Regions from separate parts of the Homo sapiens genome. Here regions 1 and 2 are each linked to region 3. The links come from fine-mapping of genetic effects on gene expression. A gene starts in region 3. Each other region holds a variant in brackets. All regions are shown on one strand. Distances are between the middles of the regions. Region 1 overlaps MED14 (mediator complex subunit 14). Region 2 has its middle 14 kb from the start of MED14OS. Region 3 holds the start of CXorf38 (chromosome X open reading frame 38).

Region 1 (4,000 bases), 68 kb before region 3:
ATGAAACAACAACAACAAAAAAACCATGAACTAGAAGATAAAGGTTTTAGGGAGGTAGTTTTTAGCTCTGTGATGAGCTCTACTAGTTTAGGTATCCTTATGAAATGCATTGGGTAGAAAACTGATGGAAAGGATTTCTGTATTGGGCATGAAGTTGACCTGTATCTCATAATGGGTGTTTTGGAGTGTTTTCTATGTTCTTTCTAGGCACTGTTCTAAAGGTTTTTTATGTGTTAACTCTTTTTTTTTTCAATTGATATATCATAGTTGTACATATTTTGAGGGTACATGTGATATTTTGATACATGTACATAGTGATCAAAGCAGGATAATTGGGATATTAATTACCTCAGACATTTTTCTTTGTGTTGGGAATGTTACAGTTCTTCTCTTCTGGTCGTTTTGAATATACAATAAATTATTGTTAATTATAATTTCCCTACTCTACTATTAAATACTGGAACTTATTCCTTTTAACTATATTTTTGTACCAACTTTTCTTCATACCTCCTCCCCCCTTCCCAGCTTCTCCTAACCAGCATTCTACTCTCTACTTCCATGTTATCCACTTTTTTAACTCCCACATAGGAGAGAGAATGTGCAATACTTGTCTTTCTGTGCCTGGCTTATTTCACTTACCATAGTGACCTTCACTTCCATACGTGCTGTTGCAAACGGCAGGCTTTCATTCTTTTTTATGGCTGAATAGTATTCCATTGTGTATATGTACTGTATTTTCTTTATTCATCTGTTGATGGACACTTGGGTTGATTCTGTATCTTGGCTATTGTGAGTAGTGCTGCAGTAAACCTGGGAGTGCAGATATCTTTTTGGTATGCTGATTTCCTTTCTCTTGAATATATATATACTCAGCAGTGGAATTGCTGGATCATATGGTAATTATATTTTTAGTTGTTAGTGGTTTTTTTTTTTTTTTGAGACAGGGTCTCATTCTGTCACCCAGACTGGAGTGCAGTGGCACAGTCATGGCTCTTTGCAGCGTCAACCTCCTGGGCTCAAGTGATCCTCCCTAGTAGCTGTGAGACCACAGGCATACACCACTATGCCAGGCTAATTTTTTTGTTTTTTAATTTTTTGTAGAGACAGGGTCTCCCTATGTTGTCCAGGTTGGTCTGCAAGTCCTGGGCTCAAGCAATCCTCCTGCCTCTGTCTCCCCAAATGCTAGGATTACATATGTGAGCCACCACACACAGCCTATTTTTAGTTTTTTTTTGAGGAACCTCCATAGTGTTCTCTGTAGTGGCTGTAGTACTTCACATTCCCACCAACAGCGTGAGGGTTCCCCTTCTTCCACATCCTCACAAGCATCTGTTATTTTTTGTCTTTTTGATAATAGTCATTTTAACTGGGGTGAGATGATATCTCATTGTGGTTTTTATTTACATTTCCTTGATGATTAGTAATGTTGCATTTTTTCATAATACCTTTTGGCCATTTGTATGTCTTCTTTTGAGAAATGTCTATTCAGGTATTTTGCTCATTTTTTAAATGGAGTTATTTGGTTTTATTTTGCTATTGAGTTGAGTTCCTTATGTATTCTGGATATTAATCCCTTGTCAGATGGATATTTTGCAGACATTTTCTCCCATTCTGTGGGTGGTCTCTTCACACTGTTGATTATTTCTTTTGTTGTGCAGAAGCTTTTTAGCTTGATATAATCTCTTTTGTTTATTTTTGCTTTTGTTGTCTGTCCTTTTTTTTTTTTTTTTTTTTTTTTTTTGAGACGGAGTCTCGCTCTACCGCCCAGGCTGGAGTGCAGTGGCACGATCTTGGCTCACTGCAACCTCCGCCTTCCGGGTTCAAGCAATTCTCCTGCCTCAGCCTCCCGAGTAGCTGGGACTACAGGCTCGTGCCACCGCGCCCAGCTAATTTTTTGTATTTTTAGTAGAGACAGGGTT[T/C]CATCATGTTAGCCAGAATGGTCTCAATCTCCTGACCTCGTGACCTGCCCACCTTGGCCTCCCAAAGTGCTGGGATTACAGACCTGAGCCACCGCACCCAGCCCAGGCCAATGTCTTAGAGCATTTTTCCAATGCTTTCTTCTAGTAGTTTCATAGTCTCAGGTCTCATGCTTAAGCCTTTAATTCATTTTCAGTTCATTTTTGTATAGTGTGAGAGATGGGGGTCTAGTTTCATTCTTTTGCATATGATGGTTATCGAGTTTTCCCATCACCATTTATTAAAGAAACTGTCCTTTCCCCAGTGTATGTTCTTGGTGCTTTTTTGGAAAATGAGTTGGCTATGTGTGGATTTCTGTGTTCTCTATTTTGCATTATCTCTTAATACAGAGAACAACTTTATGAGATTGGGAATCATGATCACCTCCATTTTACAGTTGAAAAAAGCTGAGGCACAAAGAGGTTAAGTTACTTGCCCAAGGTTACAAGACTGGTAAGTAGCAGAGTTAAAATGGAGAACAAGGCAGTCTAGGTCTAGGAGTCCATGCTTTTAACTCCTTCATTACCAACCAACTCTGGAAGTCTGTAAGAGGAAAAAACCATTTTATTCTACTTATTTTTCCTAACTTTGATATTATGTGTGTGTAATGTTAAGGATGGAGAAATGAATTAGAAAGCTTTTACTTAAAGTGACAGAAAATTATTGCTCTTAATATCAAATACTAGTGTATTAAATATTTCTTCTTCAAGTTACTGGAGAATATTTGAAGAACTACTTTGAAATATGGAAAACTGATACTAATTCCCCTTGAAGTTTACTTTGGAATGATTTAACAATATTTAGTGTGAAAAGGAGATAGTTTTCAGGGATGCTTAATACATTTACCCTTTACTTTAAAGATGATTTCAAGCTTTTTAGATCAGCAAGCCATCCTGTTTGTGGACACTGCTGATCGCCTGGCCTCGTTAGCTAGAGATGCTCTGGTCCATGCACGCCTGCCTAGTTTTGCCATCCCATATGCCATTGATGTACTAACTACTGGATCTTACCCACGGCTGCCAACCTGCATTAGGGTAAGTTCTTTGCTTGCCCCCATGTTCCTAAAAACTAAAGGTTTTGGCACTGGATTGGATTGTATTATTAAGTAGCCCAGCAAAAAACATTGTTAAAACAAACAGTACATATAGTTTGCTTTTTTTCTCTGTAACTAAAGTTGTGCTTTTTTGAAATAAGTTGGGGCCAGATGTGAGTAGATATCAAAATGGGTGAAGGTTTTATTTTTTTTTCCCCCAGGGATGCGCGGATGTGCAGACATAACATCTATTTCAGATGTGAAAATGCTACATGCTAGTTGCTTTTTGAAAGTGTTTTAAACTTTTATTGTTTTGGTAGTTTACTGACTTGGTGCCATATTGTATTTTATACTTGTAAGAACTTGTGGAAGCTATCAAGTGATATTTAGTTGGTTTATAAATAGAGCATTAAGGGAGGTCATGTTGTATTATGATCTTAGCTAAATGACTAGAATCATTGTTGCTCTTATGCATGATAGTAATGGCCATTGTTTTTGTAAGTAGACTGCAGAAATGAGTGTTAAGATTCTCTTAGGTAAAGTACGCAACACTGTATAAAGACAGGAAAAGATTGAAAAAAAAAATCCCCGTTTGTACATTATTTAAAAATCACTTAAATTTTTTTGCAGGACAAAATTATTCCTCCAGACCCAATTACCAAAATTGAAAAACAAGCCACACTCCATCAGCTGAATCAGATTCTTAGACATCGGCTTGTAACCACAGATCTTCCTCCTCAGTTAGCAAATCTTACAGTTGGTATGTATCTGAAATTTATTTTTTTAAGAGTTGATGGCCAGGTGCGGTGGCTCATGCCTGTAATCTCAGCACTTTGGGAGACTGAGGCAGGCAGATCACTTGAGGTCAGGAGTTTGAGACCAGCCTGGCCAACATGGTGAAACCCCATCTCTACTAAAAATACAAAAATTAGCTGGGTGCGGTGGCCCGCACCTGTAATCCCAGCTATTCGGGTGGCTGAGGCATGAGAATTGCTTGAACCTGGGAGGCAG
Region 2 (4,356 bases), 100 kb before region 3:
CAAAGCGGATTAAAGACTTAAACATAAAGCTTGAAACTGTAAAACTACTGGAAGAACACATGGGGGAAAATGCTCCACAACATGGGGGAAATGCTCCACAATAGCCCCAAAAGCAAAGGCAACAAAAGCAAAAATAAACAAATGGGATTGGATCAAATTAAAAAGCTTCCACACAGCAAAGGAAACCATTAACAGGATGAAGAGACAACTCAAGGACTGGGAGAAAATATTTGCAAACCATACATCTGACAAGAAACTAATATCCAAAATAAGGAACTCAAACAACTCAATAGCAAGAAAAAAAAACAAACTAGTTAAAACACGGACCAATGACTTGACATTTCTCAAAAACAGATACACCAATGTTCAACAGATATATGAAAAACACTTATCATCCCTAATCATCAGGGAAATGTAAATTAAAAGCACAATGGAAATATCATCTTACACCCGAATGTGAGGTGATATGATAGAATATCATGAAATCTATAATAGAATAGGTGATAATAGAATTATTATCAGAAAAACAAAAGATAATAAGTGTTAACAAGGGTGTAGAGAAAAGGGAATGCTTGTACACTGTTGGTGGAAATATAAATTAATATAGCCATTATGAAAAATATTATGGAATTTCCTCAAAAAGCCCCACAATAAATAGAACTACCATATGATCCAGCAATCCCACTACTGGGATTAAAAGGAATCCAATCCTGGCTAACACAGTGAAACCCTGTCTCTACTAAAAATACAAAAAAATTAGCCAGGCGTGGTGGCGAGCGCCTGTAGTCCCAGCTACTCGGGAGGCTGAGGCAGGAGAATGGCGTGAACCCAGGAGGTGGAGCTTGCAGTGAGCCAGGATCGCGCCACTTCACTCCAGCCTGGGTGACAGAGAGAGACTCTGTCTCAAAAAAAAGGAATCCAAAGGAATTAAAATCAGTATGTCAAAGTGGATATCTGTACTCCCATGTTCATTGCAGCATTATTCACAGAGGGTAAGATTTGAAAGCAAGGTAAGTGTCCATCAATGGATGAATGGATTTTTTAAAATGTGGTATATATACACAATGGAATACTATTCAGCCTTTAAAAAGAATAAAATTCTGTCACATGTGACAACATGGATGAACATGGAGGACATTATGTTAAGTGAAATAAGCCAGGCACAGAAAGACAAATATCACACCATCTCACCTACATGTGAAATTTTAAAAAGTCAAATTCATACAAGTAGAGAGTACAATGGCAATTCCCAGAGGCTGGAGGAGAGGGGTAGACATGGAAAGCGGAGATGTTTAAGTAGTTGAGGTGGTGAATTTGTTAATTTGCTTGATTTAATCGTTCCACAATGTAAACATATATCAAACATCAAGGTCAGGCAAGGTGGCTCATGCCTGTAATCCCAACACTACGAGAGGCTGAGGCAAGAGGATCACTTGAGGCCAGGAGTTCGAGACCAGCCTGGTCAACACAGGGAGACTCCTGTTTCTACAGTTTTTTTTTTTTTTTAATTAGCCAGGTGTGTTGATGCATGCCTGTAGTCCCAGTACTCAGAAGGCTGAGGAGGGAGGATCACTTGAACCCAGGAGTTCGAGGTTGCAGTGAGCTATGATCACGCCACTGCACTCCAGTCTAGGCGACCCAGCAAGACCCTGTCTCAAAAGAAAAATAAAAAAATAAAAAGAACAATTCTGTTTACCACAGTCTGCCCTCTGGCCCCCAATGATTCATGTCTCTCCTAAATGCAAAATACATTCACCTTCTCCCAAATTTGCCAAGGGTGTCAATACCATTACAGCTTAAACTCAAAGTCCAAACTCTCATCTAAATCTCATGAATTCAAAAATCCAATATCTCATCATCAAATCACTTAGATTAGGTGTGGGTGAGACGCCTGGCACAATTTCTCTCCATCTGTGGACCTATGAAACTGTAGAAACAAGTTATCTATTGCCAACACATGATGATGGAACAGGCATAGGGTAAGAGTTACAGACATTCTAGTTCAAAAGGGAGGAAAATGGAAGGTAAAAAGGATCACCAGTCCAAAGCAGTTTTAAAAGCTGGGAAACTCCCTTGGGTTTCAAGACTTGGAAATAATTCCACGTGCCTTTCAGTTCTGCCCTCTGGCTCTCGCCTGTGCCCCCTGGGCTTTCAGTTCCTCTCTCTGAGCCGTCCTTTTTTCATGAAAGGTAGAATGTGTTTACAGCTGAGTAGTTTTATCAACCTCCTTTCTGCCAGAGGAATTCTGGGAGTTTGACAGCTTCCTTTCACTTCAAACTCTGTCACTTTCAGTCCAAGCTGGCAGTATTTCTGCTGATA[C/T]AAATTTCTCAAGAACCTTGTCTGCTTTGAGTGGATGTCATAGGAATTCACTACATTGAACAGAAGCCATGTCCACAAATCTGGTAGAGATCATTCCTTCTCTAGCTTTGGCTGCTGCTGAGATGGCTCAGGGACACCCTTAAGCTTCCTAGAAGCCACTGATTTGAATGAGATCTGTGAGGCACAGCATAAACCTCTTGTGATCAAATACTCTAACCTTTTGTCTCTTAATTTTAGTGTCTTCGTCAATCTTGATATGCTGAGAATTACCCAATTCCTTTGTGTTTAACAGTCCTTTCCTCAATTTGTCACTCTCTTCTTGGGTTTTACTATAATCGGCAAGAAGAAACTAGATGGCACCTTCAACACTTTACTTGACCAATCCAGTGAGACCCCATCTCTATAAAAATAAAAATAAATTAGCCAGGTGTTGTGGCACGTGCCTGTAGTCCCAGTTACTCAGGAGGCTGAGGCAGGAGGATCATTTGAGCCCAGGAGTTTGAGGCTGCAGTGAGCCATAATTGCACCACTGCACTCCTGCCTGGGCAACAGAGGGAGACCCTGCCTCTAAAAAACAAAAAAAAACCAAAAAAAAAACAACAAGCAAAAACAACTTTACTTGGAAATCTTTTCAGCTAAATATGTGAGTTCATTGCTTTCAAATTCTACCTTCCAAATAACTGCAGGACACAAGTTTCAGTTTTGCTAAGCTTGCTGCCAATACATAACAAGGATCTCACTTCCTCCAGATTCTTATAACATGAGCCTCACTTCCTTCTGAGGCCTCACCAGCCGCCTTCCCATAGTCCATATTTCTACTAACATTCTGTTCAAGGCAACTTAGGCTGTTATCATGCTCCACAAAATCCTCTTCAAACTTGGTTCCAAAGACACTTCCACATTTTTAAGTATTTCTTATAGCAGCACCACACTTTCAGGTACTAAAATCCATATTCGTTTTCTATCGTTGCATAACAAACTAACATGAACTTACCATATCCTGACCTATATTCTATATTTTGGCATTTATCTTATCTGGCTTTCTCTTTCTAAGGGTTATTTTGTCCGTGCCTTATCCAAGTCCTCTATGCCCCACTATATTTTTTCATGGCATTTCTTTACGCCTCTTCTCCTCTGCACTCTGCACCCACAGGCGTGCAGCAGCAGGCAGATGGCAGGAGCTCTATTAGAATTTGGTTTATTTCTTTGCTTACAAGTAATTTAAACATCAGAATATTCTCTTTTACCAAATACTGATGAAGGAATAAGTCACTGTATTAGTCCATTTTCGTGATGCTGATAAAGACATACCTGAGACTGGGTAATTTATAAAGAAAAAGAGGTTTAATGGACTCAACAGTTCCATGTGGCTGGGGAGGCCTCACAATCATGGTGGAAGGTGAAAGGCACATCTTACATGGCAGCAGATGAGAGAGAACTTGTGCAGGGAAACTCCCCCTTACAAAACCATCAGATCTCGTGAGACTTATTCACTATCATGAGAACAGCACAAGAAAGACCCACCCCCATGATTCAATTACCTCCCACCAGGTCCCTCCCATGACACGTGGGAATTGTGGGAGCTACAATTCAAGATGAGATTTGGATGGGGACACAGCTAAACTATATCAGTCATATGTTGCTTTATTTCATGAGGTTTATTTGTGGAGAGAGGGGTGAGTAGGGAGATTCAGAATGAGGCAGTATTGCCACTGTCCTCCAAACCCAGAAGGCTAGTTTTTCACAATGGTATAGATTATCTATTCTGAAACGACTTTCTATGTATTCTAGGATTGAGCAAATAAGTATATTGAGCCAGATTGTTCACTGTCAGAAAAGGAAGTTACAAATATGGAAAGGGGGAAGACTAGAATGAACCTCTGGTGTTGGATTGAAATATGAGGTATCAGTATGAACTCATGGCTTTAATATATATATATATATATATATATAGAGAGAGAGAGAGAGAGAGAGAGAGAGAGAGAGAGAGAGAGAGACAGATGTGGAAACAAATATGTGTGTAAATGTACACGTGTG
Region 3 (4,314 bases):
CATGTATATACAAGAAATGTATTTTTATCTGCAGGATAATATTGTTTCAAATAATTTTATTAAGAGTTAACTTTTTAGGTATTTTCCCTTTTAATGTGGTTTTGAAATGTTAATTGCATTTTTACACATGATGCATTCAGTGGACACTCTTTTTTCCTAATTATAACTCATCTCTGAATGCATTGTGCCAATCAAGAGTAAGATAGGATTCAGTGCGCAAAATTTGCTTTTGATGCTTATTAAGAGTAAACCCATGAATTTGAATTTTTATATTATGCTTGGTACTTGGAATTGATATATACCTTATTAAAGCTTGAAAACATTTAGCATTTGAATAGTAAGTTTCATCACAAATCATGTCTTTTGCCTCTTTTGTTACCCAGGTTCGATCAAGGGGACTGGATGCCCAAGTGATTTTCTCTAATAATCGGGTTGGGACTTAACTTTAAGGTGTTTTCAATGTGATTTTAGTATTTACAGTAATAAATAAAATTTATACAAAGTTTCAGAGAACTACCAACTCTCTAGTTAATTTTGATGAAGATGTTTTCATTAATAGTCTGGTTTAGTATTAATTTAACCTTGAAATAAGAAATTGGTCCTGATTTGCCACCTTCATTTTTCCATCTGCTGAAATGCCATTTCAGAATGTATAAAAGTACTTTCAGAATTAGAAGAAAAGTGAGAGCTTCAGCAGAACGTGTCAAGTCGCTAATAACAGGAGTCGAACCTTATGTTTGAAAATTAACTGAGTGAGTTAAGTGCAAGCATAAACTAAAATTTATATGACTTTGAATTTAAGAACCACTAATAACTGTGTTCTAATTAACACAGTAATCTGTTCAGCCAAAGGATACTAACAGCCATTCTTTGGACTGTGGTTAATTTGATAACTTCAAGAAGTTATAACTTTGCTACCCTGGATTCTGATGCAATTTCAATATAAAAAGTTGTTCCTTTCATAGTTTTTCCCCCCAAAAGAAGTGCCTATTACATTTTACCTTAATGTTTATTTATCATCCAAGTGTTCTTGATATAAAATCAGTATACAGAAAATTTTAAGAGAACTTACATTCAAGGGACATAGAGGGAAAATGTTAATGTGTATTTCATTGTTTCTTGTGGAATTTTTTTTTCATTCGGTTTGAGAATGGACAGTGTGTCTAAGGATGTGATTTAAATTTACTTAGGATGGATTTAGCATTGAGGTTATTAAGACAAAGTTAGCAGAGGCCAGCCAGCACTGTGCTGCACAACTCCAGGAACTCCATGGTATGCTCACAATTTTCTGCAAGTTGCCTCCACTTCCAAGTGGCCAGTGATTTGTTAAAATACCTTGCCCAAGAATATAACTGATTGATGAAAGGGCATATTTAGGTCAATATAAAATAATAGCAAGTATTTACTGAGAGCTTACTGTGTGCTAGGCATTTTCTTAATATTTCAATGTGTATTTAATCCTCACAACAACCCAATGTGGTAGGTTATTGATATCCTCTTCTTAAAAATGAGTAAATGGAGGCCCAGAGAAATGTAATTTGCCTGAGATCAAATTAAGGTTGCTTAAGATCAAACTGCTAAGAAGGGGCAGTTTGAGTCTGAGCTAGTGCTCCTAAACACTGGACATTTTTGCTGTGAACCACAGTCGGGAAGGTTTAATGTTTAGACTCTTTCCTCAGAGGCTTTTAACTACACACAATTTTGACATGTTTTCCAAGCTCAGAAAGCTCATTAAAAACAACTAAAACTGACCTGACTTGTCACTTGGAGTTGACAATCCCAGTGCCTTCTGACCTTTGTGGCACTTCTTTGGAACTTAAATCAGACTTCCATGTGCAAGGAGCACTAATTATCATATAATCAAGAATACTAGATAATTATCGTCTAACCTTTGCTAGGTGCTTCAGGATGCCCTTATCTGGCTCAGGTGTGCAGCCTTCTAGAATCCAAGTGATGTGTTGCCCTAAACAGGCAAACGCCCCCTTCTGGGTGGTCCAGTGGCGGGGGATTTTGAGTTTTGGGTTAGCTTGGCACACCGCAGGCAGCCAGCGGTCACGTTTCACTAATACCTCAATTTGCTACAGCTGGTCTGTGGGCTTAGGAACCAGTAACTCTAGAATTGTATAATGCAAAGAACATACACGATTCAAGCAATGTGCCCTGAGCACCTTGTACATCTGGACAATAAAAAAAAGTTAAAACAGAAGTGCCCTACATTAGGAGAGGGAGTCGAATCGGATGCTGACAGGGTCTCTGTTTGGGGGACGAAGAGGGCCTAAGGGTTTCAAATAGTTAACTGCTTCCCCAAGCACCAAAGTTGTTAGACGTCAGACGTCAGACGTCACCCAAGTGGGGTGGAGCCGACGTGCCCCGGAAGTCAAGATGCCCCGCCCCGGGATCGGTGGCACCGCGCCGCGCAGGCGCAGGCGTCGCTGCCGCCGGCGCAGGCGCCGCTGCCTCGGGTACTTCCCAGGCTCCGCGCCTGCGCACTGCCGTCCGCCACGCCCCGCAACCTCCTGGTTCCAAGTGGGAGACATGGTGCTGTCGGAGCTAGCGGCGCGCCTCAACTGCGCCGAGTACAAGAACTGGGTGAAGGCGGGCCACTGCCTGTTACTGCTGCGCAGCTGCCTGCAGGGTTTCGTCGGCCGCGAGGTGCTCTCCTTCCACCGCGGCCTACTCGCCGCAGCCCCCGGCCTGGGGCCCCGCGCCGTCTGCCGCGGCGGCTCACGGTGCAGCCCTCGCGCCCGCCAGGTGAGCACCTGGCTCGGGGCCTTGACCACCGCCCCCACCCCACCCCTCCTCATCCCCGTTCCTGTCCCAGACCCAGAGCGCAAGTGTCCTGTTCCCTCCGCGATGCGGGGCCCACCGCGACGTCCCTCCCTCCTGGGCCCCTCCTCACCGCCGCCCCCTGTAGTTTCAGCCTCAGTGTCAGGTGTGCGCTGAATGGAAAAGGGAGATTTTGAGACATCATGTCAACAGAAATGGAGATGTGCACTGGGGAAACTGCCGGCCGGGCCGCTGGCCCGTGGACGCCTGGGAGGTGGCCAAGGTAAGCGCCTGAGGCGGGGACGGAAGGAGGAAGCGGCGGGTCACCCAGCACTCGGGGTGGCTATCTGGTCTTGTGGTCGCCGGGGCCTCATAAACAGATGCAGAGAGAGAGATTGATCAAGGGTCTAGGCGGTTCAGGGGTGGTATGCGGGACCCAACCCAGCTTAGTGAAGTAGAAGCTTTCTTCTACCCGTCTGCTTCCTGAGGGCATTTGAGTTTGTTACCCCTGCTTGGAAAGTTACAGGAAAGAGTTCTACAAGAGATACTGGGGCAAGATGCAGAGCGAGCATCATGAGCACAGGCAGGGAGGGAGGGAGACTCTTGTGTGGCCTGTTTGAGGGTAAGGCTCGCTGAACAGCTCATCAGCTCTTTTTTGGCTATAGGATGCCGTAAGGATGACAGAGTAAGCCAAGGGAAGTTAGGGCTAAAATAGCACCTTAAGTGCCCAGTTAAAGGCACTTTGGGTAGCTGGGAATGGGGTAGGCAGCCGGATCTGTCTTCAGATCTTGGCAATGTCACTTACTAAGTAGATCGAGTAGGAAATTTTTTTGCCCAGTAAGGGACGGAGAGGGACAGCCAGAAGTGGCTTCCTAACACAAATTGACTTTAGCAGTCAGTCTACATGCCAGTAGTTATCAGCAGGCACAGGGTGGGCACTGGAAAGGAGCAGTGCCTGGGAAGCAGATGATCTGAGTCCTGGATCAGCTGCCGTGGTGTGACACTGGGCCAGCTTGTGCTCCCCAATCTCAAAAATGAAAGGACGGCCGGGCGCAGTGGCTCACGCCTGTAATCCCAGCACTTTGGGAGGCCGAGGCGGGCGGATCATGAGGTCAGGAGATCGAGACCACGGTGAAACCCCGTCTCTACTAAAAATACAAAAAAATTAGCCGGGCGCAGTGGCGGGCGCCTGTAGTCCCAGCTACTCGGGAGGCTGAGGCAGGAGAATGGCGTGAACCCGGGAGGCGGAGCTTGCAGTGAGCGGAGATCGCGCCACTGCACTCCCGCCTGGGCGACAGAACGAGACTCCGTCTCAAAAAAAAAAAAAAAAAAAAAAAAAAAAAAAAAAAAAAAAAAAAATGAAAGGAATTGGGGCCGGGCGCGGTGGCTCATGCCTGTAATCCCAGCACTTTGGGAGGCCAAGGTGGGAGGATGGCTTGAGCTCAGGAGTTCAAGACCACCCTGGATAACATGGCAAAACCCCGTCTCTACAAAAAAATACAAAAATTAGCTGGGTGTGGTGGTGCATGCCTGTAGTCCCAGCTACTC

Evidence for each region. PIP is the estimated chance that this variant, and not a neighbour inherited with it, causes the effect.
Region 1: its variant is the best candidate, but not a certain one, in a credible set for the expression of CXorf38 in whole blood (TOPMed, PIP 0.77).
Region 2: its variant is the best candidate, but not a certain one, in a credible set for the expression of CXorf38 in whole blood (TOPMed, PIP 0.89).

What each region holds. Positions count from the first base shown.
Region 1 is chrX:40,713,527-40,717,526 of GRCh38, reverse strand. MED14 (mediator complex subunit 14) reads left to right here. Exons shown (of 31, transcript NM_004229.4): 4 at 2,817-2,990; 5 at 3,620-3,749. Among named protein-coding and RNA genes, the nearest start is that of MED14, 20 kb to the left of the region's middle. The variant T/C (reference allele first, on the strand shown) is at 1,920.
Region 2 is chrX:40,747,870-40,752,225 of GRCh38, reverse strand. No RefSeq gene overlaps it. Among named protein-coding and RNA genes, the nearest start is that of MED14OS, 14 kb to the right of the region's middle. RefSeq lists enhancers at 2,167-2,256, 2,327-2,406. The variant C/T (reference allele first, on the strand shown) is at 2,320.
Region 3 is chrX:40,645,742-40,650,055 of GRCh38, reverse strand. CXorf38 (chromosome X open reading frame 38) reads left to right here and starts at 2,495. Exons shown (of 7, transcript NM_144970.3): 1 at 2,495-2,751; 2 at 2,915-3,049. The coding sequence starts at 2,536. It overlaps MED14 (mediator complex subunit 14), which reads left to right. Exons shown (of 31, transcript NM_004229.4): 31 at 1-1,751. RefSeq lists silencers at 2,279-2,459, 2,295-2,594, 2,715-2,864 and an enhancer at 3,115-3,314.